3 separate regions of the Homo sapiens genome follow, and regions 1 and 2 are each linked to region 3. Evidence: fine-mapped expression QTL. A gene starts in region 3. Each other region holds a variant in brackets. All regions are shown on one strand. Distances are between the middles of the regions. Region 1 overlaps RAB5C (RAB5C, member RAS oncogene family). Region 2 holds the start of LOC124904007 (a long non-coding RNA gene). Region 3 holds the start of VAT1 (vesicle amine transport 1).

The links. PIP is the estimated chance that this variant, and not a neighbour inherited with it, causes the effect.
Region 1: its variant is fine-mapped to the expression of VAT1 in whole blood (TOPMed, PIP above 0.99).
Region 2: its variant is fine-mapped to the expression of VAT1 in whole blood (INTERVAL, PIP above 0.99).

Annotation. Positions count from the first base shown.
Region 1 is chr17:42,125,147-42,135,015 of GRCh38, reverse strand. It overlaps RAB5C (RAB5C, member RAS oncogene family), which reads left to right. Exons shown (of 6, transcript NM_004583.4): 2 at 4,426-4,679; 3 at 6,216-6,367; 4 at 6,633-6,755; 5 at 8,168-8,261; 6 at 9,118-9,869. The coding sequence starts at 4,514. The coding sequence ends at 9,233. Among named protein-coding and RNA genes, the nearest start is that of HSPB9, 7.3 kb to the right of the region's middle. RefSeq lists enhancers at 1,094-1,143, 1,714-1,763. The variant CCTT/T (reference allele first, on the strand shown) is at 5,522.
Region 2 is chr17:43,376,238-43,387,288 of GRCh38, reverse strand. LINC00910 (long intergenic non-protein coding RNA 910) reads left to right here. Exons shown (of 6, transcript NR_027412.1): 2 at 5,629-6,016; 3 at 8,027-8,166; 4 at 9,476-9,618. LOC124904007 (a long non-coding RNA gene) reads right to left here and starts at 7,539. Exons shown (of 2, transcript XR_007065762.1): 1 at 7,182-7,539; 2 at 6,121-6,217. It also overlaps the pseudogene RNU2-4P. RefSeq lists an enhancer at 1-340. The variant G/C (reference allele first, on the strand shown) is at 4,218.
Region 3 is chr17:43,017,569-43,028,266 of GRCh38, reverse strand. It overlaps VAT1 (vesicle amine transport 1), which reads left to right and starts at 5,882. Exons shown (of 6, transcript NM_006373.4): 1 at 5,882-6,331; 2 at 9,468-9,675; 3 at 10,061-10,231; 4 at 10,337-10,426. The coding sequence starts at 5,945. It overlaps RND2 (Rho family GTPase 2), which reads right to left and starts at 3,036. Exons shown (of 5, transcript NM_005440.5): 1 at 2,818-3,036; 2 at 2,220-2,307; 3 at 975-1,084; 4 at 72-206. The coding sequence starts at 2,919. RefSeq lists a silencer at 3,073-3,212.

The DNA of each region.
Region 1 (9,869 bases), 890 kb after region 3:
GAGCGAGATTCTGTCTCAAAAAAAAAAAAAAAAAACTTAAGAAAAAAAAAGAATTTGAGACCCACTGACCTGTAGTGTCCAGAGCAGAGGGAACCCCGGAGCAGGGAAGAACAGTGTCCCATTTTTCTTTCTCTTTCTCTTCCATCCTTGGCCCAGAAGTGCCTGTGCACAGGGCCAGGGTGTTTAGGAGCTTAGATCCCTTCTGCGCTTTCATGTGCATTGTATTAATAGGAAAATAGTGTGACTCCAAGTCCTTATACATTCTCTCCCCTTTCCTGTGGAAGACATGAGGTTGGGACTGGTGCTTGTTCTTAGTGGCCTCTGAACAAGCCAGGGTTCTGATTTGGATGGTGGGTCCATGGCAAGGAGAATCTTTCTCCCTAGATCTGAAGCTCCAGCACGGCCATTGTACTTGTGAAAAAAAGTCAACTTTTTTTTGAGACAGAGTCTTACTCTTTTGCCCCAAGCTGGAGTGCAATGGCGCGATCTCAGCTCACTGCAATCTCTGCTTCCTGGGTTCAGGCAATTCTTGTGCCTCAGCCTCCCAAGTAGCTGGGATTACAGGCGTGTACCACCACGTTGGCTAATTTAAAAAAATCAACTTTGACTGTAACTTTAGCTCTTATGGAGAATTTGATTTTTGTCTCAAAGAAGACTTTGAAAACTATGTCAGTTTTGGCTATAATTCCATCACCTGACTGCACAAGTGGATAATTTTTGCCAGGGGTTCAAAAAGAAAGATTGCCAGTAAGACACACATCCCTGGGAGGCAGGACAGCTCAGTGAATGCATTCACCTTTACTACCTGCCATGTCTTCAGTTTCCCAGGCTTGGGAGGAGAGGGTATAATGCTTCCTGGGGCTCTCGGTCTGGCCTTCCCCTGGCTTAGACACCCTCATATCTCCGTGCGCCCTTCCTAGCAAAATTGGCTTCCTTGGGCTTTATTGACTGCAAAGGTTGGACACCACTGCTCATTTGATCACCAAGCAGGGCCAGGCAAACCACTAGGCAACAGACCGTAAAAAGTGCTGGGTGTGCCTGCTCAGGTATCTCTGGAAGGCAGGATCAGTGACCAGGCAGAACATGTCACCAGCTAGTTCATGCCAGGGAGAGCCTGTCTCAGTTCATTGGGATGGCCAGAGTCTGTTCACCAACAGTCTTGGAGAAAGTGTTACAAATAACCCTGTCAGTACTCTTAGCTACTGTTTACTCAACATGATGTGTGTGAGACAGCTGGCAAACACTGCCATTAACCCTGGTGTGCCCCATATTAGTGATGAGAACACTGAGGCTCAGCTCAGGTGGCTTCTACAAAGTGATTCAGAAGTGGCAGGAGACAGTCACATCTGTGGTGCCGAAAGCCAGTGCCTGTGCTCACTCTCTCTCTGCCAGATGCTCTAGCCCTGGCTGTGCTTCAGTGGGTGTGCTTCACCTGCAGATGCTGGGCTCTGTGCCAAACCTTCATGAGAATCTCGAGGGGCTGGCTGCACAGATGACTTCAATGTACAGACACCGTTGAGAACCACTGCAGGAGAGTTATTTGTCTCCCCTTCTGGCTTGTTTTTAAAAATCACATTCTGTTCCTCTAACCCTGTGGTTTGGTAGTGACAAGACTTAGATCTGTTACCTGTATTTTTCTCGACCTGTAGGTGCTGGTTACTTCCCAGCTCGGTACCCTAAGCACCAGCTGCTTTGGTTTTTTTGGAATCAGAGACTTGGTTTTCTATTACCATCTCCCAGTCCATTCATACCTCCTCCTCCAGTGCCCCAGCCACAGACCATTGCTCAGCCAAGACTCTGTGTCACGTGGATTCATGGTAATAACCAACTTGTAATTCCACTGTGGTTTTCCCTCTGTTGCTGTCGCCCTGCCTGGCTCTGGGCGGCTCCTCCCACTGTTGAGGGCACTCAGAAACTGCAAGATTACTGTGACTGTTGCTAGAGCCAGCTAGAGCTAGACCTTCCTGGACCAGCAAAGTTGCTGCCACAAAAAAAGAGAGTTTCATTCACCTAGCAGCCCTAAACCAAACATAGGGCAGGCACTGCCTCCATTGTTCTTCCACAGCAGGGAGGATGGCATCATGTCTATGGTGGGTCTGGGGGGTTCTGTCACCTGTAGGCTGGGTGACCATGAGCAGGACATTTAATATATGAATGTTAAATTATCTATCTGAAAAATGGAGGTTGTCGTAAAGCTTGAAGGAGATAATAGTTGTGCAATTGGGAAGCTGAGGCGGGAGGGTTGCTTGAGGCCAGGAGTTGGAGACCAGCCTGGGCAACACAGTGAGACTCCATCTCTGCAAAAAAAAAAGAAAGAAAGAAAGAAAGAAAATTTTAATTAGCTGGGTGTGGTGGTGTATACCTGCTGGAGGCTGAGGCAGTAGGATCTTGGAAGCTGCAGTGAGCTGTGATCACACCGCTGCACTCTAGCCTGGGCAACACAGTGAGACCTTGTTTCTTTAAAAAAAAAAATTATTTCCTTCCATCAGCACTCTTTGAGTTCCTAGTATGCACATAGGCACTGTGAGGAAGGCATCTCTAAGAAGCAGAAAGCACAGACCTTGTCTCTTCATTGACTGAGGTGAAATGAGAAAGCGTCTTAAACTATGAAAAATTGAAATGACATAACTTTGAAATATTTACATGGTATTTCTGGTTGCTAATTGAGACCCACCACCCCGTACTTCCTTCCTTGTACTTTTGGGGAAGAGGTGGGCCCCATTTCAAACCTCTTTTCCTTTGGTTCTCTCCAGAAAGGAAACTGTTGTTTCTGGCTAGTGAATCATTCTTCCTGAAGCTCACTTTTTAAATGAGTTGCTGGGAGAACTTGGATGTGGAAAACGATTTGAGGTTGAACAAAACAAGCCCTTTGCTGTCAGCTTCTTGCATGAATGTGGACCATTTGCTTCCCACAGATACCTCCTGTTCATCCACATTGCTGTCCCTTAACCATGAGGGAATGTACTTCCCTTGCTCAGGGGCAGATCGGGGCTCTCCCTGGGATCTTAGACTCCATTATGCAAAGGGCAGCCTAATAAAAACCTTTTCTTTCCAACCCAGGTTCAAATGCTGAACAGTGTTCAGTACTTAATACCTACTCACAGGACCTGTTTGTAAAACATTCTGTATATATTCTGATGTCTGTTGACATCAGATGTATATGTCTGATGAGACATCCACTTATGTCTTCTAGAGGCTTCTAGAGATAGGCTCCTCATGTGTCTGCAATTCCAAAACTTAACAAAAACAAAAAGTTGAGCCTCTGAAGCTGTCACTAACCAAGTGATTCAGATGTCGGGACTGGAACACCAGCTGTTGGGGATGCAGGACTTGGTCTCTGCCCTCCCACACCTCCTGCCTCTTCTTTCTCTCCATCGCCCCATCTCTGCCAGTAGAGAATGGAACTGAGGTCTCTATTGAAAAAGGGAAAGTTGGTAGCTGTGCTGACTGTGGCAGAGCTATGACTTTGGTGTGTGTTTCTGTGTGTGTTTGTTTCGGTGTGTGTTTTGTTTTGGTGTCTGTTTTGGTGTGTATTTCTGTGTGTGTGTTGGCATGTGTTTTTGTGTGTGTGTGTGTGTGTTTCAGTGTGTATTTGTTCCGGTGTGTGTGTTTCTGTGTGTGTTTGTGTGTGTGTATCGGTGTGTGTTTTACTATGTGTTTGTTTCTGTGTGTGTTTTGTTTTTTAATGGGTGCGAGACTTTGGCCCATCAAAAATGAGAGAACTAGGGAAGAAGGATCAGGATGAGAGAGTGAAACATTGCTTTGATTCTGGTGCACAGAGGCACACAGTCCAGCCCTAGACTGAAAGTCGGTCAGTCCTTCTGAAGGTGGCAGGAGAAAAATGGCTATGTTAATAACAACTTGTGCTGGCCAGGCCCTGGTCCCTGAATGGCCATGAGGTTGGCCAAGCACCTTCTCTGAGGAGCTTTCTACCAGGACCTCTTGGGCCCCTGTCTGCCTCACCACTGTGGTCCTGGCTACCAGACTGGAACTTCATTATTGATCTAAATCCTAGTGTCTTCCTGAGCTTTTGTTTTGTTTTGTTTTGTTTTAATTTTGCCCCAAAAGCCTGTTGACTTAACTGTCACCAGGCTGTCACACATTCATTCATCGCCTGTGTGTGTTTATTTGTAGGTGAATGTACATATTTGGGATCCAGAAGTCAATGTGTTTGCTCAGAACCATGAGCCTGAAGTTGGGAGACCATTCTCCTCTTTACAGCTCAGATGGTGGTAGAGCCGGTAGACATCTAGTATAGCCCAGTGGGGCCTCCTGACCTCTAGTGGGGAGGGCAGGGAGGTGAGGTGAGGGGAAGCAGTCAGCTAGGTCTTCAGTGAGGCCAGAGGGAAAGATCTGTAATTTAAGAAGGACACAGCGGGTGACGGCCTCTGAACTAACTCAGTACTTCTCATTTCTCCCTTACAGTTGGAGGTCCCCCTCCCCACTAAGTGCCTCTTTGCATAGCACCAGTCCCCACCCGCACGCTCTCTGGACCACTACAGCTGGACGGGCAATGGCGGGTCGGGGAGGCGCAGCACGACCCAATGGACCAGCTGCTGGGAACAAGATCTGTCAATTTAAGCTGGTTCTGCTGGGGGAGTCTGCGGTAGGCAAATCCAGCCTCGTCCTCCGCTTTGTCAAGGGACAGTTTCACGAGTACCAGGAGAGCACAATTGGAGGTGAGTGGGCATGAGGGAGTCGGGGAGGGGCCTGAAGGTTGCCAAAGAAATGCTTTGACCTTGAGGAGATGGGAAGCTGCCTGCCTGCATTAGGGACTAAATGCGTCTGTGGTGGCAGCCCCACTTCCTCACCTGGGCCCTGGAATTGAGCCCAGCAACTGGTCTCCATGCCAGAGTCCCCTCAAGCATCGCTAGTAAGCATTTGCTGGGAGTGGAAAGCTAGCTTCCCATCCTGTTTCTGCCCCTTCTTGATCTGTGTGGCCTTGGCTGAGGCCCTTTCACTGCCCTGGCCTCATGGAGGGAGAGCTGACTCTGGATCTTTGAGGCCCCTTCTTACTATAATGGGTGGTCCATGTGCCCTGGCCTTTCCCACTTCCAGAAGAAGGAACAGCCTGGTGAGTCGGAGCTGGGTGATAGGTGGGTGTTTCTGAAGCTGACTTTACCCTTTCTGGAGCTCACAGCCTGTTGTTGATTTTCCAGTGGTCAGCATTTAGGATGTGAGTGAGGGTCTGGCCTCGGCCTCTTGCCTCCGTGGCTAACACACACATCAAGAGGCAGGGGCCAACGCTGGCCTTGGCCTTGAGTCATCCTTTCTCTACTCTCTTGGTAGGAGGTTTCTAGGCAGCTGGAAACAAAATGGGCCATGTCAGCAGTCTCCCTGCTGCCTCCTCAGCATTTGGGTCAGGAGCTGGAGAGGGGAAGTGAGGCAGTGCCCCATGTCCCTCAGTGAGCTGGGGGAGGGCAGACCAGGAAAGCAGCCTTCTACACATGGCTGTCCTGGGTTCTCTGCTGGGTCCAGGGGCAAAGGGGCCTTTTGCTGTCTGTCCCAGCTCTGGACTCCT[CCTT/T]TGAAGCATGTGTACAGGCACCCTGCATTCCCCTAAGGAGTCACCTCTTAGTGACTGAAGGTCAGGTCACAGGGTGGCCATACAGGAACAGGTCTGGGTCAGAGCTAGGGGCGGTGGCTAGCTGGAGTGCCTGGAGGTGGTAGGGGTGGTTGGGAAGCCGGCCACCCAGCCTCAGCCTGGTGGTGGAACAGTGTGTACTTCCCCAGCATAGCTAAGTGTGTGAGAATGTCCTTAGGAAACCCAAGGTCAGTGACACCCCTGGGCTGGAGCAAACTGAGGGGTGGAGCGGTCCCTAGCTGCTGGTCTGTTCTCTGAGTGGCGGAGGAGGAGGTCTGAGGGCGCTCACCCTTCTGTGCTTGGAGTAGGCTTCCCCTAGGCTTTCCCTCTCTTGCCCCTGCTGTGTTGCTCTTCAGAGAGTGGTCCTGAGATGGCTCAGTGCATGCAGGAGTCCCTTCTCCTGCCGTTGCCTGGGCTGGGTCTGCAAAGCCTGTGCAGACCCCGTCCCCCAGACACATACATAAAAATCCAAACTCCACCCCCCACTCAGGCCTGCTTTGGCTCCTGGCTTGAGGGTTCTCTGTGCCCATCTCAGTGGTGGGCTTCTGAGTGCCAGAGCCTAGAAGCAACAGTGGGATTGTGTGGGGTGGATTCCAACTCGCTCTTGCCCATGGACGCTCCTTCTCTCTTACAGCGGCCTTCCTCACACAGACTGTCTGCCTGGATGACACAACAGTCAAGTTTGAGATCTGGGACACAGCTGGACAGGAGCGGTATCACAGCCTGGCCCCCATGTACTATCGGGGGGCCCAGGCTGCCATCGTGGTCTATGACATCACCAACACAGTAAAGATTTCCCCTTGCTTCTTCCTTTGCCCTTCATCTTCTCAAAGTCCCAGGGATTGGGTTATCAGAGCCCTGATTTCAGGCCGCTTAACCCTCTGTTCCTGGGTGGGGGGTGGGCAGATTTCCTGTTTGGGGACATTGCATCAGAATCTTTAGGTGGCAATGTCTTAGATAATTTGGCTGTGCCAGCTTGAGAGTCTCTAATGGGTGGCCCTGGGCAGAATGCCTTCTCTGTCCCTTCGACATTCTGTCCCTGTCTCCTCAGGATACATTTGCACGGGCCAAGAACTGGGTGAAGGAGCTACAGAGGCAGGCCAGCCCCAACATCGTCATTGCACTCGCGGGTAACAAGGCAGACCTGGCCAGCAAGAGAGCCGTGGAATTCCAGGTGGGGAGATGACAGACTTGGGGGAAGGAGTGGAGTAAGCAGCTCCCCCCGGCCTCGCCTGGGATGCTCAGGGGCTTTGGGAAGGGCCATGCTAGGAGGCAACAGGGAAGCTTCCATCTGCTGTCCTCTCGTGCCTCAGGCATGGGCCTAACATGGCTCCTGTCTGTAATCCCAGTGCCTTGGGAGGCTGGAGTGGGAGGATCACTTGAGGCCAGGAGTTCGAGACCAGCCTAGGCGACACAGTAAGACTCTGTCTCTGCAAAAGATTTAAAAATTAGCTGGGCTTGGTGGCACGCACCTGTAGTCTCAGCTGCTCAGGAGGCTGAGGCACGAGGATTGTTTGAGCCCAGGAGTTTAAGATTGCAGTGATTGCAACACTGCACTCCAGCCTGAGCAAGAGTGAGGCCCCATCTCTTTAAAAAAAAAAAAAAAACAGCCAGGTGTGGTGGCACACACCTGTAATCCCAATACTCTGCAGGCTGAGGCGGGAGATCACTTGAGCTTAGGAGTTCGAGACCAGCATGGGCAATGTGGCGAAACCCCATGTCTAAAAAAATACAAAAGTTAGCTGGGCATGGTGGTGTGCTACTCAGGAGGCCGAGGTGGGGAGGATCATTAGAGGCCAGGAGATTGAGGCTGCAGTGAGCAGTGATCGTGCCACTGCACTCCAGCCTGGGCAACACAGTGAGATCCTGTCTCAAAAAAAAAAAAAAGAAAAGAATAAAAAAAGCATGGGCCTAAAAGGAATTGCCCGTCACCTGTCTCTCCCTGGTTCTCTTTCTTTGGTGGTAGGGGTATGTGTATATATGGATCACTAGCCTTCTACTTCTCTTTTCTTGTAAGTTGACTTTTTAATTAAACTTATTGAGAAAGAAATACTTAAGTCTCTGCTAACCCTAGAAACTCAACTTCTCTTCTTCTAATTTCCCCAGTTTCTTGTCCTTCCAGAAATATGCACGTGTTTTTTAATCCCTTTCTTTACATTGATGGCAGTGTGCTATACATACTGTATATGATAATTTTTTACCAATCCCTAATAATAGCAAAAGACTGAAAACAGTGCTGCAGTAGACATCCACATACTTTTGTGCTTTTGTGCAAACATGTAAGTGTATTTGTAGGTTAACTTTCTAGAAGTATTTCCTAGCCTAGTGATTTTGAAGAGCAAGAAGGCAGGGTGGACCTGGGGAAACCCGGGTAAGACATCTGCTAGTGATTGTGAGCTGAGAGGTGATATACATGAGCGGGGAAACCCAGATCAGGGCAGCCTTAGGCCTGAAAACTCCTGTGTGTGTCCAGCTGATCTCTATTATGATAAGGTGCTCGAATAAGGAAGGTTTGTATCCTGGGCCCTGGGCCCTGGCCCCTGCCAACATTTCCCTCTCACCTCCTCTCACCTCCATCCAAACCAGGAAGCACAAGCCTATGCAGACGACAACAGTTTGCTGTTCATGGAGACATCAGCAAAGACTGCAATGAACGTGAACGAAATCTTCATGGCAATAGGTCAGTTGCTTCTCCTCCCCTCCTCTCTCCACCACAGCAAGGGCATATCACCTGTCTGCTGGTCTAGAGTGGGCCTGCGGGGTCCCTTCACCACTCTTTTTTTTTTTTTTTTTTTTTTTTTTTGAGATGGAGTCTCGCTCTATCACCCAGGCTGGAGTTCAGTGGCACGATCTCGACTCACTGCAAGCTCCGCCCCCCAGGTTCACGCCATTCTCCTGCCTCAGCCTCTCGAGCAGCTGGGACTACTGGTGCCCACCACCACTCCCAGCTAATTTTTTGTATTTTTGGTAGAGACGGGGTTTCACGGTGTTAGCCAGGATGGTCTCGATCTCCTGACCTCGTGATCCACCCGCCTCGGCCTCCCAAAGTGCTGGGATTACGAGCGTAAGCCACTGCGCCCAGCCCCCTTCACCACTTTTAACCTTCTGATAAAATTGTTTTCATCATCACCTGACTCCCAGATGTAGATGTTGGTTGTTCACCCGAGAAGTTCCTGAAGCCTGGGCCAGAGTCTCAACATTTCACTCTCTGAGCCTGTAGCCTGCCACCCATTTCAGAGCCTGCCATCACTACCCCTACCCACTGCCTAGGAGTTTTTAGCTCATTTGGCTCTGGAATCTTCCTTCCTGGGTTGCAGATCCTGGCTCTACCACTCATTAGCTCTGTAGTCTTGGGCAAGTTATTTAACCTTACTTTGCCGCAGTTTCCTGAAAACAATCAGAATGCACCTGACACACAGAAGCCCTCAATATGTGAGTTACCACTGATTGGGTATAAAGGCCAGAATCTGCTCCAGTGGAACTGGGAGAGTTATTGGGGTACCCCCAACAAATGCACTTTTCCCCCTCCCAAACAGCTAAGAAGCTTCCCAAGAACGAGCCCCAGAATGCAACTGGTGCTCCAGGCCGAAACCGAGGTGTGGACCTCCAGGAGAACAACCCAGCCAGCCGGAGCCAGTGCTGCAGCAACTGAGCCCCCCTTGCCTGCCCGCTGCCCCCGCCTCCTCCGCCTGAATGACCCGACTGGAATCCACTCTAACCAATCGCACTTAACGACTCGGGCCACCACTGGGGGGGCAGGGGGAGGGGTCCACCATGATTTCTCCATATAATTTTGATCATAGGCCGGAGTGAGTCATTCCACCTGCACCTTTCTGTACAAATACTAATTCAATTTTAAGTCTTAAGTCACTTTTTTAATATATATGATCTTCTGCTCTTCCCACTTCCTCCCCTTTCTACTGCTCTCCCATTTTCCCTTGCTGGGAGTAGCCACATGCTCTTGCCCCCCAACCCTTGTATATGGGGACAGTGGGGTCAGTGCAGCTACCCTTTCTTTCCCTCCTGCGGAACAGCGGACCCAGCAAGAGCATCCACATCCTCACTTTGTTCGGAGTGGTCTTTGGTTTGGGCGGTGGGGCAGACCTTGGGAAGGGGCTTAGGAAGGGAGAGGCAGCTCTTCCTTCAGCTGGCTCTCATCAGGCTGCAGCCCCCTCCCCGCTCCCACCTCCCTGCTGGGAAACCACAGCATTATCACAGCATTATTGTGACAGCCACGAACCCATTGCCCACAACCCCTCCACCCTCGGTCACCCCAACCTCTGGCTCT
Region 2 (11,051 bases), 360 kb before region 3:
TTGCTCTGTCCACTCCACGCGTCGACCTGGTATTGCAGTACCTCCAGGAATGGGGCTCCCTCTCCTGGGATACAACCTGTTTGCAAGGTTAGAAAGAAAAGACTGCGCCGGGTAGTTTAGGATAGTTGGTAGGTTTTCTTACTCCTTTAAGTATCATAAGGTTCATGATTTATGGAGAGTATCCTAGGACCCAAAACAAGAATATTCATTTCCAAGTAGGGAACATGTTCGACTTTACTTGGAGGGCTTTAAATCTCAGCTTGGCTGTGGAGGGGTGATGACCTTTCAAAGGGATGGATTCCAGTGGTGTGTTGCCCAGGCTGGACTTCAACTTACTCTGTTTGTTTGTTTGTTTTTTGTTTTTGAGATGGAGTTTAGCTCTTGGTACCCAGGCTGGAGTGCAACGGCACCATCTCGGCTCACTGCAACCTCTGCCTCCCGAGTTCAGGCAATGCTCCTGCCTCAGCCTCCCGAGTATCTGGGATTACAGGCACCCGCCACCATGCCCAGCTAATTTTTGTATTTTTAGTAGAAACGGGGTTTCACCATGTTGACCAGGCTGGTCTCGAACTCCTGACCTCAGGTGATCCACCTGCCTGGGCCTCCCAGATTGCTGGGATTACAGGTGTGAGCCACTACGCCCAGCTGAACTTCCTCTTCAGCCCATGGAGTAGTTCTACTTTAAGGCAGGCACCAATGTACTGGCTACAAACTTCCTTTTTTCCCCAGGAAAAATCGAGGCACAGGTAGTTTAAGTTACCGAGGAATGCACAGGAGCAGAACTCGAGTCCAAGCATCGTGGCTCCACCCTTCATGCTTGATGCTTTTTTAGGCTCTGTTCTAGGTATGTGTATCCTTTACGGGATCAGCCACCGGCAGTTGCCTTGCAACCATGATGACAAATCTCTCCCAGCTTTTTTGGGTCTCATCCCTGTATCTATAAATTGCATCCCAGCATAAAGATCAGAATGTGTCTTTTGCTGACCCAATCTCTCACCCTTTCCAAACTCCAGAAATCTTGTCTGGCCTTGGCAAAACTACCCGCTGCTTCTTTCTCTAAAGGATATCTTCAGTCCGGGCACTGTGGCTCATGCCTGTAATCCCAGCACTTTGGGAGGCCCAGGTGGGAGGATGGCTTGAGCCCAGGAGGCCACAGTGAGGTGAGATCACGCCATTACACTCCAGCCTAGGCGGCAAAGCCAGAGCCCCATCTCGAAACAAACGAACGAACAAACAAAGCACAAAAGAAACAGCCTAGGCAAGGTAGTGAAGCCCTGTTCAGGGTGACGAATATCTGTACAACAGCTATTTCAGAGGCTGAGGCAGGAGGATCAGTTGAGTCTGGGAGGTGGATGCTCCAGTGAGCCGTGATTGCACCACTGCACTCCAGCCTTGGTGACAGAGCCAGACCCTGTCTCAAATAAATAAAAATTAAAATTAAAGGAAAGAAAGCGTGGAAGCAGAAGTGGGTCCCATTGAACTTCAAGCCTTCAAGCTACAGCTGTGGCTGGACAGGTTGAACTAGCAGGCAGGAGCAGTCACCATCTTGGCAGGGATTAATGGCCCTGAACCATCATCAGGAAGAGGGAGTAGTGCTCTTATGCAGGGAGGGCAGGTGGAATATATGTGAACTCTGGTGATCTGTTTGGGTGCCACGTGTTACTCCCAGGTCCACCTGTGACATGAATGGACAAGTGCAGGAACCCTGACTTGAGAAAGATGTGGCCTTGAGGGGTTTAGACTTTTCAGGAATGAGAGTTTGGGTCACGGTAGCCAGGGAAACCACCAGGATTAACAGAGTTGATAGCTGAGAAGGAGGGGGGATTTGGAGGGGAGAGGACAGGAGGCACTGGTTGAGTACCAGGGGCAGCCTTGTGACCAAATGCACCAAGAGGGGCTGTCGTTTGACTCACTAACTTTCTGTAGCTCTATGCAGTACAAAAGAGCAGGAGATGAAAGAATGGCAAGTAGATTGGGAGCCGGAAAATAACTGGAATGAACCCACACATTCCTGATTGACATTGACAGTAATATACAGGTACAGGCAGGCAGAGGCGTTTTCTCTTCAACTGATTTTGAAATCATTCTCTCTGTTAGAGTACACAGCTATCTGAAGGTACACAGTGACCATCAACATTTACCAAGCTTTGGGCAAATGTTAAGTGTCATTGTTGTTGGTTTAATTTGATATTGTTCTCTATTGAATAATGTGCACAACAAATTTCTGGATTTTTATTAAAAGAGCATCTCCTGTGCTACATGCAAATATACAATCTGAGAAATTCTGACCCTGGCTATTAAAGTATAAAAAGGTTTCCTTGTCTCAGAACAATGTTAGAACAGACATCAACTCACTGCTTCTAGAAGAGCAGCCACTCCTTGATTTCACAAACTCAATAAACAGTCTCAGTTGTTGTTTAGTATCATTAGGAACTATTTTGACAGAGGTTTCTAGATCATGTCACAATGACATCAGATATCAAAGAAATGTGTAACAGGTTTGGTTATATGCAATGGCTACCCTCAACCCCCCAAGTTCCTGTCCAGTCAAATTCCCTCTGACCTGCTGTCTGCATCTGCCTCTCCAGAAACAGGGCAGACACAGGATTGTCAAACGTGCTTGCTTCCATGCTCTCTCCCTAATGGTGACATGGACTCTGTTCTCAATAAGCACCTCCCACCCCGCCCAAAGGTCCCTATCACCTCTCCCTGGCTCTGGGTCCACTTCTCTGTACCTTGGACATGGGCATAACATGTTGCCCATGAGGCACAGGATGAGTAGCAGGGGCAGCCCTGTGACCAGCTGCAGCAAGAGGGAGTGCTGTTTGGCTCACGACCCTTATGCAGCTCTATGCAGTACAAAAGAGCAGGGGAGAGAAGAATGGCAAGTGGAAGGGGAGGCAGAAAATAACCAGAACAAATGCACATATATGATCGTGGCCTTGGGTTTTCATTTCCTTGTGAGGGCTCCCGTGTCATGTAAAACTTACATTGACAGCTTTTATGATAGCTTTCCTCCTGCTAATCTATGTCAGTTTGAGTCTCAGGCCCAGCAAGGACCCTAAGGAGATAAAGTTTTGCCTCCCCTACACAGTCATTGCCCACTCCCACCCTCATCTTGAGTTAACCACTGATCTACTTTATGTCTAGAGTTCCCGTTCCTGGCATTTCATATGAAAGGAATTACACAGTATGTGGTCTTTTGTGTCTGACTGATGTCTTTCTCTGAGCATAATGTTTCTGAGGTTCATCCCCATTGTGACATGTGCCATTATGTTGTACCATTATGTTTTTATTCCTGAATATCACATTTTGTTTATCCGTTCACCCACTGATGGACGTTTGAGTAGTTTTCAGTTCAAAGCTATTCGAATAATTCTGCTCTAAACATTTGCCTCTAAGTCTTTATAAGGACATACGTTGTCATTTCTCTCGGCCTGCCTGCTCATTACACATTGGTGTTCCTGTGATTCTGAAACATGTACTCTTCTCTTACACAAAGTAGTATCTCCGTGTCATCTCTCCCAGTCCATGGCTACTGGGGACCACCTGTATACCTCACCCTGATCATAGAAACAGAAGTCCAGTCTCTCTATGTTTTCAAAGGCCTCCAAGATTTTCAACTCTTTCTCTCTTTCTCTTTCTTTTTCTCTTTTTCTTTTTCTTTCTTTTTTTCTTTCTTTCTCTCTCTCCCTCTCTCTCTCTCTCCCTCTCTCTCTCTCTCTCTCTCTCCCTCTCTCTCTCTTTCTTTTTTTTTTCAAGTCTCGCTCTGTGGCCCGTGGTGGAGGGCAGTGGCATGACCATGGCTCACAACCTCGACCTCCCCAGCTCAAGTGACCCTCCACCTCAGCCTCCTGAGTAGCTGGGACTACAGGAGCATGCCACCATGCCTAGTTTCATATGTGCTTGCTTCCATCCTCTGCCCCTAATGGTGCCACGTACTCTGTTCTCAGTAAGCACCCCTGGCCCATGGGTCTTTAGACTTAGCCTTGCTCACACGGATTTGCCATCTCCCTTCAGGCCTTTCTGCCTCAACTTGCTGATTCTGTATTTTATAACCCCAGAAAGTGTTCTAAGACCCACTCAGCCACCAGCGTAGACATCTGGAGTTATAACTGTATCACTTGTTATCCAAATCCATGTGGTCCCCAAGTTTCAGATATTGGTAGTGAGAATTGAGGTCTCAAAAAACATATTTGCTTCTTCTCTCTCCCTCA[G/C]CCTCCCTCCTTCAGTCATCAAGTCCCAGAGCAGAATGCTTCCCAAACTCTGATGTGCATGTGCATTCTGGGGGAACCTTGTTAACATGCAGGTTCTGACGCAATAGGTCTGGAGCCAGTGATTCTGCACTTCTAACCCACCCCCAGATGATATCAATGGTGCTGGTTTGGGGACCACACTGTGAGCAGCAAGACTGTAGCAAGATGCTCCATTTCTACTAAATATCTTTTTTTTAAAGGGGCATATGGGCTTGGCGCAATGGCTCATGCCTGCAATCCCAGCACTTTGGGAGGCCGAGGGGGGAGGATCGCTTGAGGAGGAGTTTGAGACCACCCATGGCAACATAGGTAGACCTCATCTCTACCAAAAAAAAAAAAAAAATTAACAAAAATTAGCCAGGTGGCTGGGCGTGGTGGCTCACACTTGTAATCCCAGAATTTTGGAAGGCCAAGGCAGGTGGATCACTTGAGGTCAGGAGTTCAAGACTAGCCTGGCCAACATGGTGAAACCCTGTCTCTACTAAAAACACAAAAATTACCTGGACACGCACACCTGTAGTGCCAGCTACTTGGGAGGTTGAGGCAAGAGAATCGCTTGAACCCGAGAGGCAGAGGTTGCAGTGAGCTGAGATTGTGTCACTGCACTCCAGCCTGGGTGACAGAGCAAGACTTCGTCTCAAAAAAAATTAGCCAGTTGTGGTGATGCGCGCCTGTGGTCCCAGCTACTTGGGAGGATGAGGCAGGAGGATTGCTTGAGCCTGGGAGGTCAAGGCTGCAGTGAGCCGTGATCTCTTCACTGCATTCCAGCCAGGATGGCAAAGTGAGACTGTGTATCAAAAAAACAAAAAAACAGCCAGGTGCAGTGGCTCATGCCTGTAATCCCAGCACTTTGGGAGGCCGAGGCAGGCAGATCACATGAGGTCGGGAGTTCGAGACCAGCCTGACCAACATGGAGAAACCTCGTCTCTACTAAAAATACAAAATTAGCCAGGCGTGGTGGCACATGCCTGTAATCCCAGCTACTAGGGAGGCTGAGGCAGGAGAATCGCTTGAACTCAGGAGGCGAAGGTTGTGGTGAGCCGAGATCATGCCATTGCACTCCAGCCTGGGGAACAAGAGCGAAATTCCGCCCCCCCCCAAAAAAAAAACAGAAACAAAAAAAGGAGCCATATGGAACACTAACTTTGCTGGCTGCTGCAGCCAAACAATCTCCCTTCCCCCACCAAGGCCACACAGATTGGCACAGTTCTGTTTCTGTTGCTATAAGTGAAAGTTTTTGGTTGGTAACTGTGAAGAGGCCCAGGCGGGAGAGAAAAGAATGGTGGGGCTGGGCAGGGGGCAGGGGTGGTGGAAGGAGTCAGAGAGGAGGCAAAGGAAAATAGGGAAACAAATGGTATCTCTCTCCAAGCAGATCTCTTCAACTACCTGTGAAAACTGATGTGATGAAAAGGGGAATTTGAAGGAGCCATTCCAGAAGACAGGGCGAAAACTGAAGTGCAATCAGGGCCAAGAAAAACAGAAATAGCAGGACCTGGAGTTGCATAGGTTGAATAGTTGAATAGGCTGCTCTCCTCAGCTGGCAGGAAACCTGGCAGCCTCCTGGTGCCCAAGGACTGAAAACCTTAGAAGCACCTGGAGTTGGCAGCCTTGGCATGGTCAGGTTGGCACCTCTGGAGGTGCCCAGGCTTCCCTGGCAGCATTGTGAGCAGTGGATGGTGTTGAAGGGCAGCCAGAGGAGGAATGGAACACATGCTCCTTGCTAACCACACGGACAAGGCCACGTTCACAGGTACACAAAGGTAGGTATACAAAGGTAGGTACACAATCAATCAAAAGTTTAAAAAACAGCCATGATACCAGAAGGCTCTTTTGTTTAAAAGAAAGTTTCAGAAATAGACCTAAGTATATATGAGGCCTTTATTATATGATAAAAGTGGCATCTCAGACTGATGAAAAGGTGGGCTGCTCCATATATGATGCTGAGGCAACTGGTTAGCCATCTTAAAAAAACAAAAGTTGGATGTGTAACTGAAATCATAGACTAGAACAAGTAGGTTAGGGATGCAAATACAAAGGATCAACAATTCAAAAAGGCCAATGGGGAAAGGATCTGAGCAGTCAGCTCATAGAAAAGAAAATAGAAGATCTTAAGCATGCAAAAAGGTACACCCCCTTACTGGTGTAAGAGATTCCACCACTTTTTTTTCTTTTTCTTTTTCTTTTTTGAGACAGAGTCTGGCTGTCACCCAGGCTGGAATGCAATGGCATGATCCCAGCTCACTGTAACCTCTGCCTACTGGACTCAAGTTATCCTCCCACCTCAGCCTCACAAGTAGCTGGGATGACAAGCCTGAACCACCATGCCCAGCTAGTTTTTGTATTTTTTGTAGAGACAGGGTTTTGCCAATGTTGCCCAGGCTGATCTCGAACTTCTGTGCTCAAGTGATCTGCCTGTCTCAGCCTCCCATGTGAGCCATGGCGCCAGGCTGGAGGGCAATGGCAAGATCTCGGCTCACCACAACCTCTGCCCCCCAGGTGTTAGAAACAAGTGTTCAGTGCTGCAAAGAAAAACCACCACTTAAACAAAGAATTTCTCAGCAAGGCACATTTACTTCTGCAGAAGGGTACAGCTTGCGTCTGACTGATCCCAAGAGCACATCAAGCCGGGTAGAGCAGGGGTTTTTATCCCTAACACAGTTTCTGTTTCTGTGTCCTTTCCCCATTTGCTGGAGTTGGACAGCACAGTCTAAGCTGACCCAATTGACTAGTGCTTGAAATTGAATAAGGCCAATTAGGCAGGAAGGGAGAGGCTGTCCATTACCAACTAGGCGGGAAGGGTTGTTTACCAAGTAAGAGGTTTGCTAGTTACCCATTAAACAGAGAAACAAGTGCTCCTTCCTGATTAAGCAGGAAGGGCTGCGTATAGAGCAAGAAAGACCAAGGAAACTTTGAAGAGGAACTTACTGTTTCTGGCAATTTTCCCCCTCCTGACTTTATAGTTCTTCCTCTTCAAATTCCTCTAATATATTTTGGCTTTGTTGCTCCTCTTGGTTTCTAGAAGTAGGAGTTTATCTGAGTAGGGTGGGGGAGAATGGAGAGGGGTTTGGTAAGAGCTGTTTCTATAAGCCTTTGCACAAATCCACAAATGCAAGGTATGACACAACCTACAAGAATGAGTACACTGGTAATAATTGCAAGGGAGGTAAAGATTGAGGTCATGAGTCCCTTCCATTTCCAAACCATTTTTCCATGAGACCAGAGAAGGGGTGTTCAAGCGATTCTCCTGCCTCAGCCTCCCTAGTAGCTGGGATTATAGGCATGCGCCACCACACCTGGCTAATTTTGTATTTTTAGTAGAGACGGGGTTTCTCCATGTTGGTGTCAGGCTGGTCTCGAACTCCCGATCTCAGGTGATCCACCTGCCTCGGCCTCCCAAAGTGCTGGGATTACAGGCATGAGTCATCTGCCCAACTTGCTAAAAGATCTAATCCCAGCTACTCGGGGGGCTGAGGCAGGAGACTACCCCGAACCTTGGAGGTGGAGGTTGCAGTGCGCCAAGATTGTGCCATTGCACTCCAGCACTCTAGCCTTGGCAACAGAGCGAGTCTCCGTTTAAAAAAAATAATAATAATAATTAAAAAAAAATTTTTTTTTTTGGTAGAAACTGGGTCTTGCTCTGTTGCCTAAGCTGCTTAACCTCCATCTCAAGGTTTCCTTCTGTAGGTAACCTTTGCGAGTTTGTAATGACGAGAGCACTTAGCACACAGCCTAGGCCAAACAGTAAATGCTTCCTATTGTATTGTCCGCAGGCAACGCAGTTGCTCAGGTGCTTCGGTATCACAGCCAAGACCCCTTCGGGGGAAGCTAGTCGGATACTGGGACCCACATTCCAGACTACTGAGCCGCGGTCGCGCCCTCGGCTCCGTTTCTGCTCCCTCCACCCCACGAGGTAGGCAGTGGTGTTTCCACTTCCCAGCTGGGGAAACTGAGAGTCCGAAGGTTAAGTAGTTTGTCCCCAGTCCCCACTGACAGGGCAGGGAGAGGGGCGGGGCTGTGACTCCCAGGGCGGCAGCCCCCTCAGGGCGCGATCTCGCAGTCGCAGTCGGACTTCTCTCTGCGGCCCCGGGAAGTCCCCCCCCAGTGGGGGAGAGGGGGCTCATGGGCTCCGCTTTCGCCTCCGACCCAGCCAGACCGCTGAAGCTCCGCTCTTCACAGTAATGGCTTTCCTCAAAAGAGCTCGGACCACTCTCCTCCAACTTCCTTCCGCAGACACCTCGTGACGCCCACGCCCATTTCGCTTGGTCACTGTCTTGACCCCGGGTGGGTCCATCAGCTCATTGTAAATTAATTTTTGTATTTTTAGTAGAGACAGTGTTTCACCATGTTGGCCAGGCTGGCCTAGAACTCCTGTCCTCAGGTGATCCGCCCTCCTTGGCTTCCCAAAGTGGACAAGGACAGCAGCTCTTTTTGAAAGGAGATACAGGCCGGGTGCGGTGGCTCACGCCTGTAATCCCAGCACCTTGGGAGGCTGAAGCAGGTGGATCACCTGAGGTCAGGAGTTTGAGACCAGCCTGACCAAAATGGAGAAACCCTGTCTCTACTAAAAATACAAAATTAGCCAGGCGTGGTGGCACATGCCTGTAATCCCAGCTACTCAGGAGGCTGAGGCAGGAGAATCGCTTGAACTCAGGAGGCAGAGGTTGCGGTGAGCTGAGATCGCGCCATTGCACTCCAGCCTGGGCAACGAGAGTGAAACTCTGTCTCAAAAAAATAAAATAAAATAAAATAAAACAGAAAGAAAGAAAGGAGATACAGTATGCCCCATGAGATGCTGAAAGGGACTCACCTCTTTTGAAATTAACCTAAGCATTTAAAGCCGTGGCTCTGTTTGAAATGGAATGATTAGGAGAAAATGCATTCTTGAAGAAATAGACAGCAGTGCCGGCCAAATAAATGCTGTATGTGGAATGGACTGGGAGAAGGCCATGTCCATCTTGATGTGAGGACTTTTAATGCCTTGATCGTACTTGCCTGTATTATTCTATGTTGTCAACGTGTCCTCTAATACCAGGTCCTCCATGATAAGTTGCTCCCGATCCAGAAGTATTGCCCCAGCTGCAAAGAGCCCTGATTCTCAAATGTGGTCGTGATCATGGTTACTGATTGGTCCATAACAAGAAAGTTAAAAAAAAAAAAAAAAAAAAAAAGACATTGTCAGACTCTTTATTCTATTTGCTGAAGTGGCCTTCTTTTTATAGGACGGGGGTGGAAGGCCACCTTCGATGGGTGCATCCTCCACGATGACCTGCTAACAAAGGTGCATGGATTTCAGAGTCTGATTGGCCTACAACAGCATTTGGCTTGTGGAGACAGTGGTTCCCTGATGAAAAACTGCCATGATGTAAGGAAGAGCCTGTCAGAGCGAGGCTGGGGTGCTGCGTGTTGGGGAGGTGGAGGTGTGGCTTCCCGGGAGAAGCTCCACCCGCTGGCTGAGTCTGGCACATAAACCAGTCTGTGAGGGGATGGATGTGGGTGTAATGGGGGCAATTACAGTAGGAAGGAGCCCACGTGGAGCCTGCATTCTCTGGGACAGGGCATTACTGCATTCTCTGGGACAGGCTAAGGCCCAGATCCTACCTTCCCAGGTGGCTGGATGGGTCATAGATGTATGAACCGGTCCCCTCATTTTCTGATTGCCCTGTGCTTAACGTTTCTGTACCTTTACTGAGGCTCTTTCCTCCAACTCCAGTGCCCAGACCCCCCTTCTCCTGAACATGAATGCCTGTCCATGGAAATTCGAGTCTCTCTCTCTCACCCAGGCTGGAGTGCAGTGATGCAATCTCAACTCACTGCAACCTCTGCCTCCCAGGTTCAAGTGATTCTTGTGCCTCAGCCTCTGGAGTATCTAGGATCACAGGTGCGTGCCACCATGTCTGGCTAATGTTTTGTATTTATAGTAGAGATGGGTTTCGACATATTGGCCAGGCTGGTCTTGATCTCCTGGCCTCAAAGTGATCTACCCACCTGGGCCTCCCAAATTGCTGGGATTACAGTTGTGAGCCACCACACCCAGCCTGTCCCTGAAATTCTAATGAAATGTGCGATAAAGTTGTTTTGTTTTTCTTTTTGTTTTCCCTTCTTGGCAAAGCCTGGTGTTTCTATTTTAGTGGATTTGCCTGGCACTGAGGACTGCTATGGTGGTCTTCAGAGGCTCCTGGTATTGACTGCTTGTGAAACCGCTTTTGCAAAATTATGACTGAGACAGTGAAAGAGATCTAACTTAACCGACCCAATCTTGCTTCTAACCTCCAAATTGTCCTTATTCATTCCTGAGCATAGCCTGAACTAACTTTGGGAGAAGCTTAGTTTATATTTTATTTTATAGTTTAAAACAAAGATGTTAACAGCCCTTTCCCAAGGCAGACTTCCTTCTTGCCTGGGGACTAGGTTGCCTTTGGAGGACTAACATTAGCCACGAGATTAGAAATTATGGGCTGGGCCTCGTGGCTCACCCCTGTAATCCCAGCACTTTGGGAGGCCACGGCAGGTAGATCACCTGAGGTCAGGAGTTCAAGACCAGCCTGGCCAACGTGGTGAAACCCCATCTCTACTAAAGAATACAAAAATTAGCCGGTTATGGTGGCACATGCCTATACTGCCAGCTACTTGGGAAGCTGAGGTGGGAGGATCGCTTGAACCTGGGAGGCGGCGTGGAGGTTGCAGTGAGCCAGGATCTTGCCACTGCACTCCAGCTTGGGCGACAGAGTGAGACTCTGTCTCAAAAAAAAAAAGTTTAGAAATTATGCTTTAGGAGTCATGCAGCTGGAGGCTACA
Region 3 (10,698 bases):
TCAAATCAGAGACTGAAGGGGCAGAGGTGACAGGTCTAGGCTGGGATGAGGTCAGACGTCAAGGGTCCCACCTGCTCATGTGTAACAGGGATAAGCCTCTGCTTGGACAGCTCCCTCAGTGTGGCCAGGTCAGTCCGCATGTCCAGTTTACAGCCAACCAGCACAACCTTGGCATTGGGGCAGAACTCTTGAGTCTCTCCTTGCCACTATGTAGGAGAAGAAAAGAGAATTGTGGAGGGGTGGAGGGAGGCACAGCGTGAGCCTTTGTGCCATGCCAGCAGTGTGCCCTCTCTTCCTCAAGCACGCAGAAACCATGTATCCCTCAGGACTCTCCCACATGAGGAAGGAGGTGAGAATGCTAGGCTTGGTTTGAGAGCAGGATGGGGTGAGAGAGAAGCAGCGGGGAGGAGAGGGCTGGCGTGGGCCTGTGGACTCTTCTCCCTCAGTGGCTATGAAGGGTCTGCCAGCCTGGAAACTTCCCATTCCCACTCGCCTTTCCCATACTCTCTCCTGGGAACAAATTTATCCCACCCTCCCCTCCCCCACCTGGGAACTGGGGCTGCCCTAGCTGACTTCTGTCCATTCACCCCTGGCTTTTGTCATGGAAACTGGGGCCTGGAGAGGAGGCCACAGGGCTTTCCTGAGCTCCAGGATCAGGCTTCCCATCCCATCCCCTCCATCTGGGACTCCCACTGCCAAGGAGTTGGAAGAGCAGAGAAGGAATCCTGTGAGTGCTTCTCCCTTCACTCCCCCACCTCCCCTAGCTGCTGTATCCAGCTCTGAGGACTTTCAGGAAAGGGGTGGCTGGGAGGGATGGGGGCTGGAGGCAGGGGTGGCAGGGATGAGAGCTTCACTCGCTAACCAGCTGATGGCCATACCCCAGCCATCACTCCCTCCTCCTGGCCCATGTTATGTCAGGACCATGGTGGTCTGGTCCCCCTCAGTCTAGCTGCCCTATTTCCCCAGGCTCCCACCTTCTTGAGAACACTGTCCAGTGTTTCTGGTCGGCTAATGTCGAAGCAGATGAGCACAGCATCAGAATCAGGATAGGCCAGAGGCCGGACATTATCATAGTAAGAGGAACCTGAAGGAAGACAGGGCATGAGGGGCCTGAGTGGATGGGAGGCCTGGAAGGGAATGGGAGACCTTACAGATCCTGGTCAAGGGATGCTGGGAGCAGAGAATGGAAAAGAGCAACCATTAATACCCATCATTAATACCCATCATGGAGTCTGGGTTTCCCAAGTGGGGGAGCGGGCAGAAGGGAGGTCACATGGTGGGAAACGGCTCTCTGCTTCCCTAGTGGTTTAAAAAGTAATAATTTTTATTCTTGACTGAGGTTTGGACCCCTTTGAGAAGCTCATAAAATCTATAGACATTCTCATAAAATGTTGCATGTGCTTTCTGGGCTTTGGCAGTCTAAAGCCCTGAAGGGAACTCTTGTAAAAATAAAAACCCTCCTTATGTTGGGAGGAGGAAAAGAGCAGTGGCAGGGAGAGCACTCTCCCATTCTCCTGGGACTTGACCTCAGATTTATCTAGTTCAATGGAGAGAAACAGCCTCCTGACCACCCCTCACTCAAGACATTCTAAATGTCTTTTCTGCTTTTTTATTTTTTGAGATGGAGTCTCGCTCTATCGCTCAGGCTGGAGTGCAGCGGCATGATCTCGGCTCACTGCAGCCTCCGCCTCCCAGGTTCCAGCGATTCTCTTGCCTCAGCCTCCTGGTAGCTGAGATTACAGGCACGTGCCACACGCCCGATTAATTTTTGTATTTTTAGTAGAGACGGAGTTTCAACCATGTTGGCCAGGCTGGTCTCAAACTCCTGACCTCAGGTGATCCCCCCACCCCAGCCTCCCAAAGTGCTAGGATTACAGGCGTGAGCCACCGTGCCTGGCCTCTAAATGTCTTTTCTAAACCCAGTCTTATCTCTGAAGGAACATGTTCCAAATTAAAAGCCATTCCTTCCCAACTTTCCCAGGTAGGCAGGACCCAGCTGAGGGGCTCAGATCCTAGGCTTTCTCCTTCAGGACATGGTTTCTGTCAGGCTCTGCAAGTTCTACCTCAGTTTCCCTGGATTTTAGCAGAATATTGATTTTTCCCTTCCTGTTGGAATTGGATGGATGGGCTGGGCTTACCTGGAACCTAAGGGTCTAACCAAGGGAGGGGACAGAGTGGGCCGCCTTGGAAGTCAGGGTGACCCCCAGGGACTTGGCTACCTGAAGTGTCCCACATGTTGAGCTCAATGCGGCGCTTGTCGATCTCAAAGCTCGCAGTGTAGTTCTCAAACACGGTGGGGACATAACTCTGCAGACACGGATGGATCCAGATGAGATCATCTCTCCAAGTCCTCACCCCAGATAAATGCCCTCCTCACTCCCACACCCCGTCCAGCCCAGCCCCTGGACACAAGTTGGTCTGGGATTGGGCAAAGGGGAGATCCCGGGAGCTCCTGCCCCCCCCCCCCCCCCCCCGGAGAATCTCTGCTAAGCTCCCAGACCTCCTCCTGTTCCCTTCTGGTCCCTTCAGCCCCCTAGTTCTTCCCCTCTCCATTGCCCAGGACCTCCGACATTCCCCTCGCCCTCCCTCCCGGATGCTCTGGTTCTCCCAAACCCCATCTATCTCACCCTGCTCCCTAATTCCTCCCACCCCAATCCTCTGCAGTCCTTCCTGAGCCCTCAAGGCCTCCCCGCGTCCTCCGACCCCCTGTCTCTTGTCCCTGGTTACCCGAGTACCCATTCCCATCCGTCGCCAGGGCCCCTGTCACCCACCCCCCAGCAGCCTTAGCGTCCCCCTCCCAAGACGCAGGTCCCTCACCCCGGGATAGGCGTCCTTGGCGAACACCTGCAGCAGCGCCGTCTTGCCGCACTCTGCGTCTCCCACCACCACGATCTTGCAGCGGCCGCTCTGCCCCTCCATGGTCCCGGCTACGCGCCGGTCCCCCACGCCACCCCTCTCCCGGGCCCCGCCGCCGCCTCCCCCGCCCCTGCAACTGCAGCCGCTCGGGCCGCCAACACCGGCATCTCGCGGGCCCGCGCCGAGCCCCCGCCCCGGGTCCGCGGCCCCCCCTCCGCCCCGCCCCCAGCCAGGCGGCCGCGCCCCCCCGGCCCCTCCTCCCACCCCCGCAGCCGGGGGGCGGGGCCCAGAAGATCTGGGCGGAGCCCTGGGAACAGAGGCCTCAGAGCCGGGGTCCAGCCCGCCGGTGTGGTCTGAGGGGCCCCTGCCGGTTTGGGACAGGCCGAACTGGGCTTATTTGACTTTCTCGGATATAAGGGCAGGTCAGAGTTCAAGCGAAGTTCTTAGGGGTAGAATATGAGCGGCACAAGCGCGAAGCTCGGGCCTGCTGTGTACCCACGCGTGCACGCAGGTGTACCAGTGCGGACAAGAGCTGGGGCAGCCATCCACTTCCTGAACACGGCGGGAGAGAGATGCTAAGGGGAAGGAGGGAGCCTCTTTGGTTTTCTCTCCCGCGTCCGCCTATGTCCTGGCAGGGGGTCTTGGGGAAATGGGAGGGTGAACCCCAGCACACCCACCCGGACGGTGGTGACATCATAGCTTTCCGTCCCCATGGCAACGGGCAGCCGGGTCTCCGGTTACATTGACTTAACCGCCGGCCTAGACTAGCAGAGAAGCGTGGACTGAGTTCCTCCAGCCAAGCACTGGGTGGAAAGTTTTGGGGGAGCTGCGTCCTCTGGTGGATGCTTGGGGACAAGGAGATAAGGAAGAGAAAGAACCAACCGCCAGAGTTGCTCTGCTGGAGCCAGAGCTAAACCCAAAAGTCAGGCTTGATTAAGAGTCTGACAATAGGCCGGGCGCGGTGGCTCACGCCTGTAATACCAGCACTTTGGGAGGCCGAGGCGGGCGGATCAAGAGGTCAGGAGATCGAGACTATCATCCTGGCTAACACGGTGAAACCCGCACGGTGGGCGCCTGTAATCCCAGCTACTCAGGAGGCTGAGGCAGGAGAATGGCGTGAACCCGGGAGGCGGAGCTTGCAGTGAGCCGAGATTGCCTCACTGCACTCCAGCTTGTGCAATAGAGTTTCGAAAAAAAAAAAGTGCTTTTTTATATCGAGGCAATTCGAGTCAATAATATATGCTGCAAATAATTCTGTAAAGATAACTAGAAGCTGGGCGCGGTGGCTCACGCCTGTAAACTCAGCACTTTGGGAGGCCAAGGCTTGCTTGCGTGCAGGAGTTTGAGGCCATCCTGGGCAACATTAGCGAGACCCTCTCTCTAGAAAAAAAAATCAAAACTTAGCTAGGTTTGGCCACTCTAGGCACGCTGCCTATGGGGTAGCCCTGCTCTGCAAAGAGCAGTAAAACATAAAGTTAGCCGGGCGTGGTGACACATGCCTGTGGTCCCAGCTATTCAGGAGGCTGAGGTGGGAGGATTGCTTGAAGCCGGGAGTTTGAGGCTGTAGGGAGCTGTGATCGCCCCACCTCGCTCAGCCTGGGTGACAGAGTGAGACCCTGTATCAAAAAAATAAAAATATAAATATAACTAGAGCACGCAGCATCATCACTATGTTACAGAAGGGAAAATGAGGAACAGAACGTTAACACCAAAGTCAGAAAGTTTTAAAGGCTTGGTCTCCATGCTTCTACTTTGCCACTGCAAGACCACAGTGAATTAAGTCTCATCCCTGCCTGGGTTAGATGTCAGAGCCTGAGACACAATGTAGTTGGACTCCAGTCCACAGGTGGCTGACTCCAAATCTGATATGAGTTAACTCCAAATCTGATGTAAGTTCAAGTTTTGGGACTGTTCCTTAACTTTTTTTTTTTTTTTTTGAGACGGAGTCTCGCTCTGTAGCCCAGGCTGGAGTGCAGTGGCGCGATCTCGACTCACTGCAAGCTCTGCCTCCTGGGTTCATGCCATTCTCCTGCCTCAGCCTCCCAGGTAGCTGGGACTACAGGCGCCTGCCACCACGCCTGGCTAATTTTTTGTATTTTTTAGTAGAGACGGGGTTTCACCGTGTTAGCCAGGTGAATCTCCTGACCTCGTAATCTGCCCGCCTCGGCCTCCCAAAGTGCTGGGATTACAGGCGTGAGACACCGCGCCCGGCCTTTTTTTTTTTCGAGATGGAGTCTCCCTCTGTAGCCCAGGCTGGAGTGCAGCGGCATGATCTTGGCTAACTGCAACCTCCGCCTCCTGGGTTCAAGCAATTCTCCAGCCTCCGCCTCCCTAGTAGCTGGGACTATAGGCACCTGCCACCATGCCTGGCTAATTTTTGTAGTTTTAGTAGAGCTGGGGTTTCACCATACTGGTCAGGCTGGTCTCGAATTCCTGACCTCAGGTGATCCACCCACCCGCCTCGGCCTCCCAAAGTGTTGGGATTACAGGCGTGAGCCACGCCGCCCGGCCCTTTTTTTTTTTTTTTTTAACAGGGTCTCACTCTGTTGCCCAGACTGGAGTGTAGTGGCGCGATCTCGGCTCACCTCCGCCTCCCAGGCTCAAGCGATTCCTCTGCCTCAGCCTCCCAAGTAGCTGAGATTACAGGCGCGCGCCACTACCGCCCGGCTAACTTTTTTATTTTTAGTAAAGACGGGGGTTTCACCATGTTGGCCAGGCTGGTCTTGAACTCCTGACCTCAAATGATCCACCAGCCTCGGCCTCCCAAAGTGCTGGGATTACAGGCGTGAGCCACCGCGCCAGGCCTATCCCTTAAAATAGTTTTTAATTTGAATAAGGTTTACTATGAATAAATAAATCACAGTCGGCTTGATCCCAAGAGCACAGACGTTCCTGGTGCCCCTTTTCGTGCTCTCCCAGCTTGCGCCACTATGGCCCTGGCCCTTTAAGGCTGAGCGCGAGGCCCCGCCTCGCCCGGCGCCCCGCCCCTCCCGCTGGATCCCGCAGCCGCGGCTCTTCCCGACGCGTTCCGCCTTCCCCAGCTGTGCACTCTCCATCCAGCTGTGCGCTCTCGTCGGGAGTCCCAGCCATGTCCGACGAGAGAGAGGTAGCCGAGGCAGCGACCGGGGAAGACGCCTCTTCGCCGCCTCCGAAAACCGAGGCAGCGAGCGACCCCCAGCATCCCGCGGCCTCCGAAGGGGCCGCCGCCGCCGCCGCCTCGCCGCCACTGCTGCGCTGCCTAGTGCTCACCGGCTTTGGAGGCTACGACAAGGTGAAGCTGCAGAGCCGGCCGGCAGCGCCCCCGGCCCCTGGGCCCGGCCAGCTGACGCTGCGTCTGCGGGCCTGCGGGCTCAACTTCGCAGACCTCATGGCTAGGCAGGGGCTGTACGACCGTCTCCCGCCTCTGCCTGTCACTCCGGGCATGGAGGGCGCGGGTGTTGTGATCGCAGTGGGCGAGGGAGTCAGCGACCGCAAGGTGAGCGGGTTGCGTAGGGCAGGGCAGGGCTGCGCAGGCCACTGGGCAGTGGGGCACGAGTGGGCGAGCGCCGGGGGTGTGGCAGGGCGGGAGAAACTGGCGCGGACCTGGGTGCACGAGCGTGGAAAGCGTAGCCAAGGAACTTGTGTTTGGGGGCTCCTGGAGAGCGGCATTTATGTGGGGAGGGGAGACGAAATTATCGCCCCTTCCCCAACCATTTTTAGTTGTGGCCGCCGCCCAGAAGCTGTGCTGGTGGGGGGGAAAACAATAAGGTGCCCATGCGCATGCGCACAACCACACTACCGTCCCCACCCCCCCCCCCCCCCCCCATTAAAACCACACCTGTACCCCTACCCACCAAACACTCTCTGGGTAATTGTGGTCTGTGACTATGAGTGACGGTTAGTGCCCCCTTTCCCCGAGGGAGCTTGAGGGGCTATGTCGTCGGGGTTGGGCGGGGGCACAGCGGCCGTGCCAGAGTCCTGGTCACATGCAGCCCCGTGGTCTGTGGGGGTGTGAGGCGGCCCCTCCCAAAGCAAGGCCAAAGAGACGAGACACGCCCATCACGGAGGAGAGAGAGCCTTTGCTACCCCACCGCCACCAGCCTTACACCGCCGATCTGATTTTGGGGTGGGGGAGGCGGGATTGGGTCATCCGATCTTTGTCTTGGGCTCTGTGTCTCCCGTGACTGCAGTATCTCCTCCTCCTGTGACTCAGCCCTCAGCCTTCGGGCCACGACCCGGGGCTGCCCTTGGGAATGCCTGGGGCGGGGAGTGGAAGGGGGGACCCACCTCTGCCTTCCTCCTGCAGAGGACCCCCACTTCAGAAACCCCAGTGCCAGGGGTTTGGACTGGAACGGAGAGGTGCGGCGCCTTGAACTGGTTGGCCAAGTCTGCAGGCCTGTTTCTCCTTCTCATTTATCATTAATCTTGGCCACAACCCTGGACACCAGAGAGCTCAAAATGATCAGCTTTTTGAGAGACCTGGGATGAGGCCTCAGCACGCCATTTGTTTAGAGGTTTCTTTTTTTTTTCTTTTTCTTTTTTTTTTTTTTTTTTTTTAGACGGAGTTTCGCTCTTGTTGCCCAGGCTGGAGTGCAATGGCGCGATCTCGGCTCACCGCAACCTCTGCCTCCCGGGTTCAAGCGATTCTCCTGCCTCAGCCTCTCGAGTAGCTGGGATTACAGGCATGCGCCACCATGCCTGGCTAATTTTGTATTTTAGTAGAGATGGGTTTCTCCATGTCGGTCAGTCTGGTCTCGAACTCCCGACCTCAGGTGATCTGCCCACCTCGGCCTCCCTAAGTGCTGGGGTTACAGACATAAGCCACTGCGCTTGGCCAGGAGTTTCCTTTTTAAATCAGACCCCTCAATGAGAGGCCCCACAGATGCAGCCTCTTGCAGACCTGCCAGCCCAATTCTGGAGCCAGGTTTGTTGGATTCATCCTGTATGCAAACAGCTTCTCCTTAAGGCTTTCCTCTGAATTCAGCTCTGGCCCCACCCTCAAACTGACTTCTAAATGATCCCACTCTTGAGCAGGCGTCTAAGAGGAATATTTTCGGGAGGTAGTTGTAGTTCATGTTACTGCTGAAGGCCACCCACCTCACCTCCCCTCCATACACTTTCCGCCTGGTAAATACAGGATATCCTGTCCAGGGCAAGAATCTGATGTAAGAGCCTGGATTCTGCGGGGAGGGCCCTTCCCTCTCTCTCCCTCCTCCTCCTTCCTGGTGTCTGGGTTGGGGAGGGGTCATGGCCCTGATTTGGATGGCCTGAGGGTTAGCATGAGCCAGGGTAAGTGAGACTTGTTCTGGGTCAAATCTGGGACTGGCCATGACCCTAAATGACCAATGCACTCCTCGCAGCTCTCCTGGGTTGTTCTGTATCTGCTAGTCCTGAGTCCCTGGGTGGAGGGCTTCCGTTCTTGTTCTCCAGACCTCATCTCAGGCCAGAACTTGGAAGGAAAGACCCCAGCATGCCCTCAGTTCTCGTATTCAGTGGAGTGTGGGGGCTTGAGGACATGAAAAAGGGCGTAAGTGGCAGTCCCATCCCCCTTCCCCATGGACCCTAACTCTTGTTAATATACAGAATTCCCATCATTCCTGGCAGGGATCAAGACAGACCCAGATTGTCCCAGAACAGCACCCACACCTCCCTCTTCATGCTCTTCAGAGAGCGCAGAGAAGTCTTTTCTCCTGACGCTCCCTCCTTTTCCCTGCCCTTCCCTTGACCCCACTTGCTAAGCTGGAGAGAAAGGTTCTGTTATCTTTGTCCCCTTTCCCTCCTGCACAGAGGCTCTCGTGGGGGTGGGGGGGAAGCCTTTTACTGCTGCGTAGGCCTCTGTAGCCCTTCTTGTCTGTTGCCCCTCCTGCACCATCTCTGAGTGAAGATGTTTTCTGGGCTCCCAGTGCTGGCTCAAACACACTTCTCCCGAGGTGACCACACCCTGCTGTAAGCGCTCAGAGAACTTTGCCTGCACTTTGGTATGGCCCTGACCACACAGTGCCGTCTTCTTTTGGTTGTGTGACTTCCTTGCTGCTATTATATTATTATTATTATTATTGTTAGCTAACATTATTAAGTGCTTATTATGTGCCAGACATTGTGCTAAAATTTTTTTTTTCCATTTGGAAAAACTGCCCTAATTGACAGATAAGAAAACTGGAGCTGGAAAAGTGGAGCTCAAAAAGATTAAGTAATTTTTATGCATCCGAAGTCACACAGTCAGTAAACAGTTGAGACCGCTTTTGTAACCACAGCAGTTTGATCTTTTCCACAATACTTCATGCTGCCCTAACTGTAAGCTTCTTGCATTCAGGGATCTTACACAATAGTGACATGTAAGATCTGTAAGAAGATGATAAGGATAGTATCTGCCTCAAAGAACTGATGTAAGGGTTAATTAAGCATTATATATAAAGCACTTGAAATCGGGCTCGGCCCTCAGTCAGCACTCAGTAAAGGTGAGTTGTTATTGTTGTTGATGATGATGTTATTATTATTATTATTACCATGACTATTGCTGCTTCTCCTGCTACTTCATTTGGAAGAAGGTAGCCTTGTACCTAGGGGGAAATCAGTAAATAGCCTGTGGGTGAATGAATGAGTGACTGAATGATACTCTTCTGTTCTTCAAGGCAGGAGACCGGGTGATGGTGTTGAACCGGTCAGGGATGTGGCAGGAAGAGGTGACTGTGCCCTCGGTCCAGACCTTCCTGATTCCTGAGGCCATGACCTTTGAGGAAGCTGCTGCCTTGCTCGTCAATTACATTACAGCCTACATGGTCCTCTTTGACTTCGGCAACCTACAGCCTGGCCACAGCGTCTTGGTACACATGGCTGCAGGTGACAGGTCCCCTCACTTTATCACCCCTTACCCCACCCAGATTTCCTTCCAGGCCCCTTCCCTGCAGCCTGTCTGGGTTGTTGTCATGGCAACACCAGGCTGCCTTGGCCTGTGGCTCCCAGAGGCCTCTGCTGTGTAGTTGCCGTGGTAACATTCAGGCACCAGGTCTAGTCTGGTGTGCTATCCTTAGCAACGTGCCCTCACCCCACACCCCCACCTCTCTAGCTACCTTCCCCACCACTTCTCAGTCATGGAAATTAGACACGGCCCTAAAATGAGCGTAGGCAAAATGAAGGTGACAGGCTGAGTCCCTGGGAGGCTAGAATGGAGTGGTTGGTGGCCAGGGCAACTCCATATCCCCTGCTTATGGGTGTCTTGCTGCAGGGGGTGTGGGTATGGCTGCCGTGCAGCTGTGCCGTACAGTGGAGAATGTGACAGTGTTCGGAACGGCCTCGGCCAGCAAGCACGAGGCACTGAAGGAGAATGGGGTCACACATCCCATCGACTATCACACGACTGACTACGTGGATGAGATCAAGAAGATTTCCCCTAAAGGTGGGGGGCATAATATGGGAGGGGGTAGGGAGGCACAGGACAGGGAGGGGAGCTCCAGATCTGTGGATCCTAATGTTGTTCTTGGGTTCCCCTACTCTATGACAGGAGTGGACATTGTCATGGACCCTCTGGGTGGGTCAGATACTGCCAAGGGCTACAACCTCCTGAAACCCATGGGCAAAGTCGTCACCTATGGTGAGTTAGTGGGCCAGGGATGGAGAGAGCATGTGAGGGCAGGAGGGAGGGTCTAAGGGGTGGGATATAGAGGCCAGGGCTTTTGAATGAAGAAGGGGTAGGGACTCAGGTGCTCTGTAGACGATCAGGGTTAGGAATGGTCCTGTATGCTGCATTCAGATTGCTGACTCTTGGGTACCAGCTCTTTTCATTCTCTGTCACAACTTTTCATATGAGTGATAGTAAATTCTACATTCTTTTTTTTTTTTTTTTTTTTTTGAGATGGAGTTTCG